2 separate regions of the Homo sapiens genome follow, and region 2 is linked to region 1. Evidence: fine-mapped expression QTL. A gene starts in region 1. The other region holds a variant in brackets. All regions are shown on one strand. Distances are between the middles of the regions. Region 1 holds the start of YIPF5 (Yip1 domain family member 5). Region 2 overlaps KCTD16 (potassium channel tetramerization domain containing 16).

Region 1 (8,481 bases):
TACCATAATAATGTTTAACAAATTACTTACTCTGTTTCAATTTCCTCATGTGTCAAATGGGCATTACATGGCACCTACCTCATTGGGTTGTCAGGAGGAGGAGTAATTGAGTTAAAAAGTGCAAAGTGCTTAAAGAAATGCTTGGCACACAAATTCTTGAAGTATAAATAGGTGTTAGCTGTCATATTTTTCAAATGCTTCATTTTTACCTTTGGCATGAGTGGCTTTGCCATCATTAGAGCCCACTTTGAGTTCTCCCGTGCTGTTTTTCATATTATCTCCCCTACTACCCAAATTATTTGAAATACAGACTTCAGTGCTTCAGTGCTTTCACTGAAATTCATATTCCAAGCCACAATAGCCATTCACCTGACATTAGAAAGGTTTGTTACTGAAGAGGGTATTTTTGATCTCTACAATGAAAATATTTACAGTATTTACAATATTGCTTATATGTTATCTTTAAAAGACTTATTTTTAACAACATGCAGCACTTGCAATACTGAAGTCAAGCTTCCAGGAATAGTTATAAAATTGGGGTTAAATTTCTTTGCCTTTTAAAAACCAGTTCTGTACAAAAGCATCCAATGCCATTACGGGCAAACCTGTCTTCCCAAAACTATTCATCGTTCAAAGTAAAATAATTGAAACAAAAGAAGCAGAATTTGAATAACCTAGTACAGGAGACTTGATGAGGAAACTCTTTGGTAGGGGAAAAAAGATAATTTGGAGGAAATATAATTGTCATATTTGGGAAAAGAGGTTACATAGTTAATATATAGGGAGAGTAAAAACAAACACTGGCACTTACATTGGTTTTTACCATTATTGTCAGGTTTCATTGTGGAACTTGACTGAAATACACAGAGCTGCCAGATCTCCACTTCATGTGATGCTTGTGGATATAGCTGACGGTAGGAGAAAACTGCCCATGTTCAAACCATAATTTTCTGGCACAACTTTTCATGACATATGAACTGAAAAACAGAAGGGAAAGAAAGTAACTCTAAAATATCTTAGTTTCAGAGCCATACTAAGAAAATGGAGTTGTTTTGCGTGTGTTTGTGAAGCATGTAAAAGTGTTAGTGTGTATACTAACATGACTGTCTAACTAAATGATATTACTCATTATTAGGATGTCCTTTCCCTTTTTGTTTTGGTGATGGATACATTAGGTCCCAGGGAAGGACTGCGCAGCTATTACAAGTCTAGCTCATGTTGCCTCATCTCTTGACCTAGGGTGAGGCTTTCTACTCCTAATAAAGCCAGCTGGGTGACTTTAACAGAGGACGGCACATTTACCAAGTACTCCAGTCTCCTTTAATATAACTTTCTGGAGCCTATCCCAGAGTGAGGGAGCAATGCCAAAAAAAAAAAAAAAATCCAAAAAGAAATTCCTACGTGACTAGCCATGAAATTAGTGGATGTTCTCAAAATTTCTAAGGGGCATCAGCAGGATACCTTGGCTTACATTTCAAAGTCAAATAAACAATATGCAAAACTTAATCAGGTAACTCAATGTTCTTGCTTGGCTTCTCAATTGGAGCAGAAATTCAAAGGGGAAAATTTAAATAAATACGTTAATTGCTTTCAGAGACAGAAGTAGAATTTGAATAATATCTATATCTAATAATTCATTCCTAAACAGGCAAATTTTTTAAATTTTAAGTTCAGGGGTACAGGTGCAGGTTTGTTACATAGATAAACTTGTATCATGGGGGTTTGTTGTACAGATTATTTCATCACCCAGGTATTAAGCCTAGTATCTATTAGTTATTTTTCCTGATTCTCTCCCTCCTCCCTCCAATATGCCCCACTGTGTGTTGCTCCCCTCTATGTGTCCATGTGTTCTCATTATTTAGCTCATACTTATAAGGAGAATATGTGGTATCTGGTTTTCTGTTCCTGCATTAGTTTGCTAAGGATAATGTCCTGCAGCTCCATCTATGTCCCTGCAAAGGACATTACCTCATTCTACTTTTTATGGCTGTATAATATTTCATGGTGTATATGTGTCACATTTTCTTTATCCAGTCTATGATGGATGGACATTTAAGTTGCTTCCATGTCTTTGCTACTGTGAATAGTGCTGCAATGAACATACACATGCATGCGTAGTTATGATAGACTGATTTATATCCTTTTGGGTGTATTCCCAGTAATGGGATTGCTGGGTCGAATGGTATTTCTGTCTTTAGGTCTTTGAGGATTCGCCACACTGTCCTCCATAATGGCTGAACTAATTTACACTCTCACTAACAGTGTATACGCATTCCTTTTTCTCTAAAACCTCGCCAGCATCTAAATCAGCAATTTTTAATGCTCATATTCTTGTAGCTCATTCAAATTTGAAAGGGATATCCTTTTTGATTCAGAAGAAATAGAAACATCAGAAAAAAACAAAAGAGACTAGAATTTTTTTAACCATAAGATTAATTAAATAGATAATGATGGATTATTGCATCTTATTGATGACTCGAAACACAGCTTCATGGATAATGTAGCTTAAAGAAAGTACAATCACAAAGTTTATCAACTGAATTAGGATATTTTTGAGAGTAAAAGGGAGCAACATTAATAATTATGCTGAGGGTAAGTAAAAATAGGCAGAAAATGGGACAATGGAATTGTCTCCAGCAAATCATAATATGTGGTCATTCTACCTGAAGTTGTGCAGATGATACCTAAACCAATAAATGCTAAAATGATTGATGAAAGGTGGTGAACACTTGAATGAGCAATTTCAGAAATTCAAAAATATAGTTAGAAAGCACAAAAATCTAGTGTTCAGTGGCAAAATAGGGTAGCTATAGTTAACAATAATTTATTGTATAGTTCAAAATAACTAGGAGTAGATTTATAATTTTCTCTACACAAAGCAATGACAAATGTCTGAGGCGACAGATATATCTCAATTACCCAGATTTCATTATTACACATTGTATGCTTGTATCAAAATGTCACATTTATCTCATAAATATGTACAACTATGATGTATCCACAAAAATAAAACAAATAAATTCGCTAATGGGTAAAAACCTCAAAGGGCAGCTGCCTGTTGGTCTCTAGAGTACAATCCTAGGTTTTTTGGTTGGGTCTTACATCCTTTTGTTGTTGCTATTTTTGTTTGGAGGGGAGTGCGTTTTCTGTTTGTTTTATTGGGGTGGGGGGTGTTGAGAGAAAAGTTTTAAGTGAAATTTTATTGTTCCTTTGGAAACTAGTCCCCAACAATGGTCTGGCTTCTTTTGTGAGGGCCTCAGGATTTTGATCCCAGAATATAATGCAGTGGCTCATGATAAATTTTATTGCTATAAACCCTGAAGAAAGTTCTGCTCATTAGTTAATAGCATCTTATTTCGAGTCACAATATTCGGGATTCCACCATCTTGGGAAAGTGATTTAACACAGGAGCCAAAGCAATCATTTTCAAAAGAAAACAATTTAAACATCACTCATCAGTTCACAATCTTCACTTCTTTTAGAACCAACACACAAATCCCACAGGATATTTCCTGGCCCCTTCCTGTTATTCCAGCCTCAACTCCTATGTGGCTCCCCTCACTTGCTGTTCCAGTCACTCAGGTTCCACTTAGAAGAGTGGTTGACAAATTCAGCTAATGTTGCCCCCACCGCCCCCAAGGACATTTGGATTTGGCAATGTCTGGAGAGATTTTTAGCTGTCACAACTTGGTGGTGATGGTGGTGGTGGTTGGTTGGGGGGAGTACTGGCATCTAATGGCTAGAGATTAGGGATGCTACTGCTAAGCATCATGCACAGGGCAGCCCCCAATAAAGAAACATCCTGACTCAAAATGTTAATAATGCTGAAGTTCAGAGCTCGATTTTCATCTTTCCTCAGACCATGCTTCCCAGATCTTGCACACATTGTTCTCTTTGCCTAAAATATTCAGGCTATTTTCCCTTATCCTCCTTTCCCGTTGCCCTTTCTTCTCTTTTCTGGTCTTCTCTAACTCCCACTCACCCTTTGATAACCCTCTTATAGTGGCTTTACAGACTCTTCTTCCCAGATGAATGTTACTCTTTCAAAGAATTATGGAACACTAAAGAATATTAGTAGCAATTTCACATGCATTTGTATGTGTTCGATTACCCCTCTCCACCACCAACTCCAGGTGGGTAGATGTCACCTAGCTTATATTTACCACAGTATCCCCAGCAGCTAGCACAGAATGAATGAATACTTAATAGCTTCACTTACAAAAGGGAAATAGGGTAACCATCTCATTAGGTTGTAAAGATTAAATAATACATACAAACACTTTAGCACAGTGCTTGAATCACAGTAAATGCTGACACCGAGGCATTGTAGGCATTGTAGTTTGTGGACAGGAGAGGGGACTCCGTCTGTCTCATTTTAGCGCCTCCCAGTCTTCCTCCATCACCTAGGTCTGAGAAACTCCTCCTCCTACCTACGAGTAAGCAGCAATTGCTACGCCTGCGCTTTCCTGGTTCCACCCCTAACCAGGCTGCCGGAAGCACTTTCCTCTTTGGCACGGGCCAGCCGCAGGTTGGGTAGATACTGCGCAAGCTCCATACTCGTGTCTCCTCCTCCCGCCCACCGGTGCCCAACCTGCTAACACGCCTGCGCGAGCGGGCGTGCCCCGGAAGCCGTTCTTTGGCCCTGTGACACGTAGCAACGGGGCTGGTTCAGGGTCTGAAACAGAGTTTGGGGGTTGTTTGGGATTAGTGAAGCTACTGCCTTTGCCGCCAGCGCAGCCTCAGAGTTTGGTGAGTGACCCAGGCCCGTGGCACAGTGTTCAGCTTCTCTCCACACCCGTGCAAATGGGCTTGTTGCCGTCTTTCGGCGCCGCGCCCTGGTCCTTTCGCTCAGACCCTCGCTCTCATTCAAGCCCTTGCCCTGACGCGGTCCCCTGCACCTCAGGCGCGACCTTCCAGATTCTGCACTTTTTCCTGGCAGGCCGCAGGCCTTATTTTGCAAGGAAGCAGTCGCCTTGTCAGCTGTAAAGCCCAGTCCTAAGGTGAAAAATCATCTTTGTTGTTATTGATATTTTAGACCGCTTATGGAACCACAACTCCCACGACCTCGCCCCTAATGGAAGGCATATCAGCTCTTTAAGGTGGAGTTGTCTTACTGGGCCGCAACTTAAAAGAATATACATTTTCTTACTCTCTCTCCGCTACCGTCGTTCAAATGCTGCGTACTTTCCGCCCCCATCCCCTCTCCGAATTACTGAAAAAATATTTGTTGTGTTTCTATTTGCTTAAGCAGACTGCCAGGAACGAATTCAGTAGAACCTTGGGCATAAGGAATATTTGCCATTTCTCTTTTATTACAGATTATTTGCAATGTCAGGCTTTGAAAACTTAAACACGGATTTCTACCAGACAAGTTACAGCATCGATGATCAGTCACAGCAGTCCTATGATTATGGAGGAAGTGGAGGACCCTATAGCAAGTAACTTTTCATCTTTGGCAATTAATTTAGTCTACATTGCAGTGAAAACACATATTTAGAATATTTGGTTCTGCCTAAAACAATATGTGAACATGTCCTTTATCAGGAGTATGATCTTTCATGCATAATCTTCTTCCTCTAGAGAGATATGTGACACTGGCTTGGCTTCGAAGGTATTGTTCTATTTAAGAGTTGAGTGTCTTCTGCAAACTCTTCAGGTGTACCATGAATGGAAAAGTAGCTTGTTTGAAGAACTGTTTTCTAGTAACAGTATTTCTGTATTTAGAAGATGATGGGAGCTTCAGGTACCTAGGAGATAGGCTGTTAGTTCATAGGACCAGTGAAAAATTAAAGTATTTTGTTAGTAGTTAAATCAGTCCAACTCTGAGACTTTTATCAGTGCTAATTGAAAGTGCTTAGTGACATTATTTAATGATGTAAGCTCCTTATTACGAATCATCAGGCGATTTTCATACAGCAGTTGATAATCATTTTTATTACTCCTCCTTCTCAAACCCTTATGGTCAGTGCCACACGTGTTATAAGTTGCATACTGAGGAGGTTGACTCAAAGCCGTTAGCCTCTGAACATTTTTTTTTAAATGATCTTTTTATAGTACCTGGTGTTTGTGACAAAAATACATGAACTGAAGGCTTTCTAGCAATCTCACCTAAAACATCATCTCCTTAGTTTCTTAGGACCCTAGAGATAATCTTATCAGCTTCCTGTCAAATAAAGGAGCTTCCTATACTAGGATTGCTTAAACTTTTTTAGATGGTTCTGGATCTCTTTGAGAATCCTATTACAACTGGGCCTCTTTCCCATAAATACATGCATTCACTCAAACACCCAAATAAATGTGCATATATAACTTCAGACAATTCATGTGTTAAATGATGTTCATCATGGATCCCGAATTTGAAACCTCATAAAGACTGTTCCACGATGAGGGCAGGGGAAGGTTATGTATCTGTCAGTTTGTGAGAAACATGCAATACAGGAATGTGTTTGGATTAGAGTGCCCAAGAATTTAAAAAACAAAACAAAATTCAAATTCACTGTGGCTCTGTAATAGTGTCTGTCTTGGTTAGGCTATCCTTTCTAAAACATATAGTCTCTTTGAGTCTGCTTAATTTGGTATATTTTAAGGCTTTGTTTTCCCCTCTAAAACTTAACACATTTGAACAATGGGAGTGAGCATGTCAAAATACCCCGTGATTCATTTCTCTTTTCTGTTACTTAATTACATACCAATGAGGATTTATCTCTTTTGATAAATTAATGGGCAGAGTTGGAAAATTTGTATTGAGGTATTTCCATTCATTTATTTACCTAAATATGTATTTTTGGTGATTGCTCTGTGTATAGGAGAGCCAGAGTCCATCTAATAAATCCTTGCCTAAAGCAGCAACACAGCTTCGGAGAACCTGTCTCTCTATGCAGGCCTGTTTTTATCCGAATGGTTTTTATGATTAGAACTCAACAGAGCTATTCCATTTAGATTGCAGCCTACGAGATTTATCTGCCTCTGCTTTTCTTTTCTTTTCTGTCCTGTCCACGTTTGCATCACTTAAAAGGTGTGACTTACAGTCTCATTCCCTTTAACAGTCATTTCAGTTCTCCACACAGCAATTTAGATATTCTAAACAACTTGTTGCTGGTTAGCACCTGTTGCCAACTGTTCTCACAGTTTCATTCCAACCAAATCATGTACCAGTAAGCATTGCTTCAGTACTAGTGATGAAGTTTTATTCTGGGTGATTATATAACCATTATTGCTATAAACTTGGGTTTATAGATGATGCCTGGGAAAACAAGAAGCCTAATGTATTAACAGTAATAAATTTGAGTTTCTGAGATTTATTTTGTAAAAACTGGACTCTTCTGTGCGTACCTTCAAGTAGATCTGCAATCTAATGACATTTTAAATGTCCATCTCCGTTAACCAAATAATATTTTGTTTGATTTGCTAATTTAGTAACAAAGATCCGCTAATAACTTTTAGCTCTCCATTGGTGAAAATCTAGGTGCAAATAGCATATTACTTGCATTGTCTTTATGTTTTTAACTTGACTTGTTATTAGTACACAGTTCTGCATTTGCCATAATGAAGTCAGCTTTAACATTTTTTGGTTTCCTCTATAGGTGTTTCACAAGTATCATTCATAGATCCATTCACCAAAAAAACAAAAACAAAAAAGTATAAAAGGCCCTTTGATCATAATCTGTTGAGTTATATAAATGGAAAATTGGACAGGTTCCACATTGTATTCTAGATATGCTTATGAAATATATCATAATACCAAGTCACATTTTTTAAATTATGAAAGCTGTTATTTTTTTTCTTCTTTGACTTACCTGGTAGTATCTTTATGGAATATCTGAGGTTTTCCATGAACTTAGGTAACCAACCCAATATGTTAAGAGGCTTTGTCTTTGTTACTGGTACAGAGTACTTATGAGAGTATTGATTTAGTATCTGCTGCTTTTCATGTTGTTTTAGCCTGTAAAGATCGTGTCTGCCATACCATGTTTTAGTTTAAAACCAGCAGGAACAAGTCAGAAATTTTCCTGAATAGGTCCTGCCAGAAAAGGAAAATAGTAAAATTCTATGATATTGTCATTCTCACCTTTCCTCTTGAAGATGGAATGATGGTGCCACCTTTGAAACAATCAACTGCTTGCAGTACTTTTCTTCCTTACATGAAATTTATTGGTCTGTATCAGCAACTCTCAAAATTTAGGCTGTAGACTACAGAGGGTCCTTGAGACTCTTCTGAGATTCTTTAAAGTCAAAGTTATTTTCATAACAATACTAAGATATCATATACCTTTTTAGGTATGTTAACATTTGCAGTGCTGTTGCAAAAGTATTGATTGGTAAAACTGCTGGTACCTGAGTATGAATCAAGGTAGTGGCATCAAGTTGTTCTAGTAGTCATCATATTATTCATCACTCTATATACTTGTTAGAGAGTTGGCAGACAGTCAGTTTCATTTAAGGATTCTCTTGAGGAAGCAGTAAGAATTATCTTTTTATTAA
Region 2 (8,585 bases), 210 kb before region 1:
AATACAAGTAACAAATGCATATGTCATGTTCTTGGTTATATTTTTATTATCAATGATTTGTGGACATTATGCAACAATGCTATCTTCACTGAAGTCATCAGCATCTACGAGTAAACAAAAATATATTTTTCTGAATTTTTGTGCCTTATATTTTATTGAGAGGTTATAGCCTGAATGGAAATTTTCCTTTAGTGACAGCTATAATAGAGGAAAATAGTTTTCGCTCATATATTATTATCTTACAATGAAGTGTGAAGGAAATTATGATTTATGACTTTGCTGATTGTTTATTCCAGCTGCAGACATTATCCCCTTTAGCCAAAATACAGGCCATAATGTCCCACTTATTTGAATGTCAGACTTCCAACAGTGAGTCCAAAAGGGAACGAGCTTCTAAACATCCAAAATAAATATCACAAAATGTATGCACTTCATTACATGAAAGGGGTCATCCTACAGATTATATTGACTCTTCCTTACATGCTATTTTATACTCTTAATTACCTACTTATCCATCCTAAAACTTTAAAGAATAGCCAAGTGACCATCATTAGGAAACAAAAGCTAGAAGCCAGAAATAAGACCCTAAAAATTGTCCAATATTACCACAACAGTTCATTTGTTTTGTAGCATTTGGTCTCTACATTAAAGAAATAATAGTGCAAACATTAATGATGAATACGGAACAATAGAATATTTGTAAAATTTATCTTGAGTCATCAGAAAGAGGTTAAATTATGTTTACTATATTTTGTTTTAAAATGGTAGCAAAATAGGTAATGTACTTTGGAAGATGTAATAAAACAATGTTATAATAAATAAAATTTTATTTCGCTATAATGAAAAAATAAATAAAATTTTATGTTAAAGTTACTTAGAAAAAATGTATTTATTTTGAAAACTTCATTGTAAGGTATTAGTATATTTCAGCAGCAATGCCAACAGTGCTGTCGTTTTGGTCAGATGTCTGATGAAGACAACAGAGAAAGGATTTAAAACACAGAATGACGAAGCTCCTTTCCCACTTCTTCCTTAGCCTCCAGTTCTATCCCCTTACCAGCTTTTCAAAGCTATAAGGGTGCCAAAGAAGTGCCTGGACTTTGTCTATCCATTACAAGGAAATGATGGCAACCCATTTTGCAAAGGTTTGGATACACGTAGAAATGCTCCATCACTTGCTACCTGATCTGCATGAGAGAAGAGCATAAAATATATTAACTCACCATCTTAAATCCTCTCCCATTTCAATGACTCCCACTCATCTTGAAAATTAAGTTCAGCTTTTCCTCAGGAAAAAAACTGCTATTTATTCCATTGCACAAAGACTAATATTTCACTGGGGGAAATCATCTATTTGTAAGTGTTAATTCATAGCTGCCACATTTACTGTTGTGGTTTTTCTGATCAAAAAGATGTCTACAACTCACCATTTTTAATGAATAGATTCTTACGTATTTTTTATAATATTGGTTTTTAACGAAGTGTTTCAAACCCATCAGAAATGCCTGCTAAGCCTCGGCTCAGATGGTCATGAAGGCAAAGGACATAACTGAAACCAAATAAAGGATGAGCAAGATAAGCCTATGGCTGGTCATGATAATGCATTTTAAAATTTCCAATGTATGACTCTCATTCGTCTCTATAATGAAAAACTACCAGCCACCATTTGCTTTGCAAACACTAATCCTAGTACCTCATGGGCTTTTGTAAAAGAAAAAAAAAAATCTCCTGAAAAAATATTGCAGTTTTAGGAAAGCAATGTTTTCAGCTGCTGTAATCATTCTAATTACTTTAGAATGTTTCTTTTTTTTTTTTTCCTTCACCCTCTAGGGCCTTTTTGCCTTCAAATCAGCTACAGAAACAAAGCAATTTAGCACAGTAAAAAGCTTATTAACATATGATGCAGTTCAGTGGCATGAGAAAAGACTAGGGAGAAAACAAGAGATCCATCCCGTGAAAAAGGTAGATCTGAATATTTCAAATCAAAAAAGCTGAGCCAGGGAGTGAATAACTCAACAAAATGTGAAAAGAAAGGTCAAAATGGCAGCTCTGACGCAGAGAAATGTCAGCTCTACAGGATGAAAGATGACAGTTTAATTCCTCAACTTGCCCAGTAAGTACAGTTTACAGCTAAGGTGGGCAATTTTCTAAATCGTCATTTATCATTTAAGAGAGTCCCTAGGTCCCCTTCAACTATGCGTCTTCTGCTCTTTTCAAACTTACCTGTGAGGTACCAGGGAAGGTGAAATGGCCCCATTTATCTGCAGACAGTGAATTTGCAGGTTTCTGCTTCTCTGCAGAGGTAACAGTAAGGAAAGAAATGAGTAGAAGTTAAGTGCCAAAACTATTTTGCCAGAGCAGATTAGGAAAACCAACGTGAAGCTCCCTACCAGAGGATTGTGGGTGCTTTGAATAGAAAGGAAACAATATTTGGAATAGCATGTGAAAAATGCACAAGTTGGGCAAAGCAATATGAGAATTTAGTGGTGACATTACTGCCATGGTCTTGTTTTCTTGATCCAGGAAGAATGAATAACTCAATGCACCTCCAAATAAGAGCTTAAGTAAATGCTGAAGTAAAAGAGATGAACATCCAGAACCTCGCAGTGGATCCAGAGATGCTTTAAATAAAAACTTCACCTCCTCAAGGACAAATGGTCATTCATTCACTACTTGGCTATTGAGCATCTACTACATGTCAGGCATGGTGCTGGTGGCTAGGTATGTGGATATGAATAAAACAAATTTCCAGTTTTCTTGTAGTTTATCATATAATATGGGAGAAAGGTGATGTTTCTATTCCATATTCATTCATTCAATACTGAGTATGGAACAACTAACTATAGTGAGCTCAATAAGAGGATCCTAAGTATGGTGTCAGAGGCGAGGGGCATAGAATCCAGGGAGCCTTCCTGGAGGTGCTGATGTCTGAGCTTATTTCTTTTTATTCTTATATTTTAAAATCTTTTTTCAAGTTTTATTTTAGGTTCAGGGGTGCATGTGCAGGTTTATTACCTGAGTAAATTGCGTATTGCTGGGGTTTTGTGTACAAATGATTTAGTCACCCAGGAAGTGACTAAAGAGTACCTTCACCCTCTTCCCACATGCTCATCCTTCAAGTAAGAACCTATGTCTATTATTCCGATCTTTGGTTCCATGTGTACTCAGTGTTTAACTCCCACGTATAAGTGAGAATATGTAGTATTTGATTTTCTGTTCCTGTATTAATTTACTTAGCATAATGGCCTCAGCTACATCCATGTTGCTGCAAAAGGCATGATTTCAATTTTTAGGGCTGCATAGTATTCCATCATATGTATGTATGTATGTATGTATGTATGTAT[A/GTATGTATA]TAAACATCTTCTTTCATCCAGTCCACTGTTGATGGGAACCTAGGTTGATTCCATATCTTTGCTATTGTAAATAGTGCTGCAATGAACATATGGGTGCATGTGGCTTCTTAGAAGAATTATTTATATTCCTTTAGGTATGTACCCAATAATGGAATTGCTGGGTCAAATGGTAGTTATCTTTTAGATTCTTTGATAAATCTCCAAACTTCTTGAGATGGTTTGAACATATGTCCTTACCCAAATCTCATGTTGAATTGTCATTTCCAATGCTGGAGGTGGGGACTGGTGAGAGGTGTTTGAATCATGGGGATGGATCTCTTATGAATGGCTTGGGCCATCCCATTGGTGATAAGTGAGCTCCTGCTCTGAGTTCACACGAGATCTGGTGGTTCAAAAGTGTGTGGCACCTCCCCCCTCCACTCTTTCTCACTTGCTTCTGCTTTTGCCATGTGACATGCCTACTCCCCCTTTGCCTTCCATCATGATTGTAAACTTCCTGAGGCCTCCCTAGAAGCCAAGCAGATGCCAGCCCTATGCTTCCAAGCCTGCAGAGCCTTGAGCCAAAAACCTCTTTTCTTTAAATATTGCCCAGTCTCAGGTATTTCCTTATAGCAATGCAAGAACAGCCTAATACACTGCTTTCTGCAGTGGCTGAACTAATTTACATTCCCACCAGCAGTGTATAAATGTTCTCTTTTCTCCACAACCTTGCCAATATCTGTTATTTTTTGACTTTTTAATAATAGTCATTCTGAGTGGTGTGAGACGGTATCTCATTGTGGTTTTGATTTGCATTTCTCTGATGGTTACTGATGTTGAACTTTTTTTTCATATGCTTGTATGTCTTCTTTTGAAAAGTGTCTGTTCGTGTCCTTTGCTCATTTTTTAATGGGGTTGCTTGTTTTTTCCTTGTTAATTTGTTTAAGTTTCTTATAGATTCAGGATATTAGACCTTTATCAGATGCATAGTTTGCAAATGTCTTATCCCATTCTATAGGTTGTCTGTTTACTCTGTTGATAGTTTCTTTTGCTGTGCAGAAACTCTGGGGTCTCACTTGTCTATTTTTGTTTCTGTTACAATTGTTTGTGGAGACTTTGTCATGAAATCTTTGCCAAGGCCTATGTCTAGAATGGTATTTCCTAAGTTTTCTTCTGGGGTTTTTGTAGTTTTAGGTTTTCATTTAAGTCTTTAATCCATTTTGAGTTGATTTTTATATGGTGCAAGGAAGTAGTCCAGTTTCGATCTTCTGCATATGGCTAGTCAGTTATCCCAGCATCATTTATTGAATAGGGAGTCTTTCCCCCATTGCTTGTTGTTGTTGACTTTGTTGAAGATCATATAGTTGTTCTGTAACCTGTTCCATTGATCTATGTGTCTGGTTTTGTACCAGTACCATGCTGTTTTGGTAACTGGAGCCTCATAATGTAGTTTGAAGTTGAGTAGTGTGATGCATCTGGCTTTGTTCTTTTTACTTAGAATTGCTATGGCTAGTTAGGCTCCTTTTCAGTTCCAAGTGAATTTCAAAATAGTCTTCTCTAATTCTGTAAAAAATGGCATTCATAGTTTGATATAAATAGCATTGAATCTGTAAATTACTTTGAGCAGTGTAGCCATTTTAAAAATATTGATTCTTCTTATCCATGAGCATGGAATGTTTTTCCATTTGTTTGTGCTGTCTCTGGTTTTTTTCAGTGGTGTTTTGTAACTCTCATTGTAAATATCATTTACCTCCTTGGTAAGCTGTATTCCTAGGTATTTTATTCTTTTTGTGGCTGTTGTGAATGGGATTGTACTCTTGATTTTACTCTCAGCTTGGACATTATTGGTGTAAAGAAATGTAACTGATTTTTGTATATTTATTTTGTAGCCTGAAACTTTACCAAAGTTATTTATCATTTATAGGACCCTTTGGTCAGAGACTATGGGGTTTTCTAGGTATAGAACCATAAGTGTAGAATATTTTTTAGGTATAGAATCTCGGCAGAGGAAACCACACTTGCAACTGCATATATGTATAAAACCAGCATACTGCCGTCTATACCAGAGTATGTATGTAAGGAAAATGAAAAAAATTAAAAATATAGACTACATTTACAATACAATACATGTAAGTGTTGGAAATACATGGATGTTTGGTTTATTCTTTTATTTACATTTTGCTTTATTTGAATATAACTTTTATAAATATGTTTCTCAAGTCAGTGATAAATATTTGAAACAATAACTACTGACTCAGCCTAGCTAAAATTCTCAACATCAAATGCCAACTAAAAAGAAAAAGGCATGGATGATCTTATTTGGTGTGTTTGCAAAGGCCATCTTTGTGAAACTTTAATTTAAAAGAAAGAGTGAATAATTATATATTTTCTGTCATACCCATACAAAGAAACCTGTCTGAAAACTTGTTGAAGATGTTACCTTTGAAAATAAAATAACAACCATATTTAGGACTGGAACATGCCCCCAAGCTCCCAAATGAACTCCTTGTCTTTAATCTATTATAATGATATTCTTAAAGATATCCTCCAAAAGTAACTCCCAAACCCTCCATCAGTAATGCACTCTGTTCTCTCACAGTCCCTATAGTCACAAAGCTTATTTATAGGACACCTAAATTCATCTTATTACAATTCTAAACCCATTTCAAGTAAGCCCCTCTTCTTCTAGTACGTGAAATATCTATTTACTAATCCTCCAATCTTTATCCAAAGTCTAACCCAATGTGTAAACACAGCCTAAATATGAAAAGAGACTCCCTCTCATATCTTTCTTGTCATCCATGGGAACATGTGGGGAGTTAGGCCAAAGAGCAGGCATAAAAATGGGAAAACCTTATGGGCAGGAGAGAAGGAAGACATGGGTAGTCGTAAAAGGCATATACCTGCCTCAAACATTTCATAATAAAAAGAATCTACTTTTGAGCACAAAATATGCTGAAAGCAGAAAGTTCATCTGACAATTGCCAAACGTCAGTATTCCAGGATGCATCCCTTTCTCCATGAGTTGTAAATGAATATTCACTCTGAAGCCAAGGCATCTAAGAGAAAGGCCACAATTAATATCGCCAAATCCCATTTCACGGATGCTTGCATTTTCTCCTATGACGAATGTTAGCATAAGATTAATGCATTGTAAAAAGTCATTTAATACAAAACAACCATCTGTCTATATGCAGTGAAGCAGAGAGAAGAGGCCAAATAACACGTTGGTTCAGCTCAATCCATGCCTGGTACATTAGCTGTTTACTTGAATAATTGAAAAACACAAGTCTATTCTGTTGCCTTGACTAGGGCTAATCTAATGAAGTTAACCTGCCATTGATGACACATGTGAGATGATTTTAATGCACTTTAAACATCTTATTTAAATTACACAAGAATATAACAAAGGCATAGAAATGACATACTTAATAAAGTTGGATTCCAAAACTGTTCAAAAAAGAAGTAGCCCTGCATATTGGCCTTAACATATTGCACACATCTGAAACTAAGTAATTATTTCCAGAATTTTATTATAGAAATGAAAACCACTCTTCAACTAGCTAGATACGACATTTCAGTAGAGTAAGAGAATATGATCTAGCATCTTTAGAAGAAATAAAAAATAGTATTGATTCAAATCCTGTAAACTACTTATCAATGACCTGACAAAGCAAGAAACTACATTTGGTATATTATCTGGCAATATACACCACCTTATTCATATACATATTAGTCTAATTTCATCTCTGTGTCTGGAATTTCATAGCTGTAAGTTCTTCTATTACTTTTCACTACAGATTTTTCCTGCAATTCTAAATATACCTTCCTACCCCAACCTCCAGGCTAGTAGTCTTCCTTTCCCTGGGGAAAAAGAGGGAGAGCACAGAAGGAGGGAAGGCTGTGTTCTTTGAAATTCAGGAAAACCTCCTTAAAATCCCAAACCATGCATGGAAATCTGAATATCTGCTAAGTGTTTAAGTTCCTTTGTTTTCTTATAATTAACGTCCCCTTCTGACCAATTTCAAGTTATGATATCTATGTATATGAAAGGACAAGGACACACACAACACATACATTCATGCTTTCCCTTACTTGGAATGGAAGGAAGTTACAGGAAAACAAAGTATATAAGATTGAAAAAGAGATGCAACAGATAATTACCTACCTAATTGCACAAAATCATGGCATTGTGGAAAGGGAGGTTTACCAGATGTGGAGGGATGGAGAGTTTGATTATCACTGCTCTCTTTTCCATGTCCCTAGTCACTCCTGGGTCTGAGAACTTAGTGAACCTGAAATGACACATTTAGCACAACAGCCTGCAGAAGACTTGTCAGCAGGATGTCATTCTTGGCTGATGGATTTTTAAATAATCTTCTCAGAAGCTTAAATTTAGGGAGGGCTTCTCTTCTCCCCTCTTCAACCCAGAGTTTTAAATGTATGTAGCAGATTGGGTAAGTTTGGAGAAGAGAGGGTTAAACAAAGGGTCATAAACTGCTGGTCTGTGGACTGACTCTGGCCCCAGAGAGGCATTTTCTTTAATTGTATAATGTAATAAAATTAATAAGTGTCACATGCAGTTCCTAATTTGTGTGTTCTGTTGAATATCAGATCTGGCTACTCTAGCCAACTTTCATGTCTGGCAGCAATTAGCTAGAGCTGAGTCTCAGCTGCCCTTGAGCCAGGATATAAATTTACCAGTTTGCCACTGTCCACTCCATTCCTTATAGCCTGATATCCAGCCACTTGACTCATGTATGCTGTATCCAGGACCTCTATTAATATGTATTTGAAAATGTTATAGTTAAGATGATCAAGGAACCCCAAGAGAAAGTAAAAAGAGAGACAGTCCAATAGGGGATGTTTCTCCTTGAACAGAGAAGGGCTCCATGAAGGATGGCCAGCATTGGAGAGCTATAATTGCAGACCTGTTGGAGGAAATGGGGTAGGAAATGAGTTTGATAAAATAGAGAAACAATCCCTAAAACACCACCTCCTCATCCAGTGTTATCCCAAGTCTGAATGCGTAGATATGTACACCCAAGCCTGCAATAAGGAATAGTCCGCTGGGTTTCTTCTGTAATCTTGAATGGCCAACAGAAAGACTGCTCAATTATGAATGGCACAAGGGGTGTGGCACTGCAGTCATGCCAGAGCATTCACCAGTTCTCATCTTTACAGTGTTAGTGATCGCAGCCAATGAGATTGATTCCCAGTTTATAACTTTCAATATCCTACCATCCTTAAAACATGACAAA

What was found. PIP is the estimated chance that this variant, and not a neighbour inherited with it, causes the effect. A credible set is the group of variants that fine-mapping cannot tell apart.
Region 2: its variant is the best candidate, but not a certain one, in a credible set for the expression of YIPF5 in monocytes after LPS (Fairfax 2014, PIP 0.55).

Annotation. Positions count from the first base shown.
Region 1 is chr5:144,166,803-144,175,283 of GRCh38, reverse strand. It overlaps YIPF5 (Yip1 domain family member 5), which reads left to right and starts at 4,625. Exons shown (of 6, transcript NM_030799.9): 1 at 4,625-4,749; 2 at 5,319-5,438. The coding sequence starts at 5,329. KCTD16 (potassium channel tetramerization domain containing 16) reads right to left here and starts at 4,411. Exons shown (of 4, transcript NM_020768.4): 1 at 4,275-4,411; 2 at 812-977. RefSeq lists an enhancer at 4,484-4,763.
Region 2 is chr5:144,376,777-144,385,361 of GRCh38, reverse strand. All of the region lies in intron 3 of KCTD16 (potassium channel tetramerization domain containing 16), which reads right to left. Among named protein-coding and RNA genes, the nearest start is that of KCTD16, 210 kb to the right of the region's middle. RefSeq lists an enhancer at 1,521-2,720. The variant A/GTATGTATA (reference allele first, on the strand shown) is at 3,345.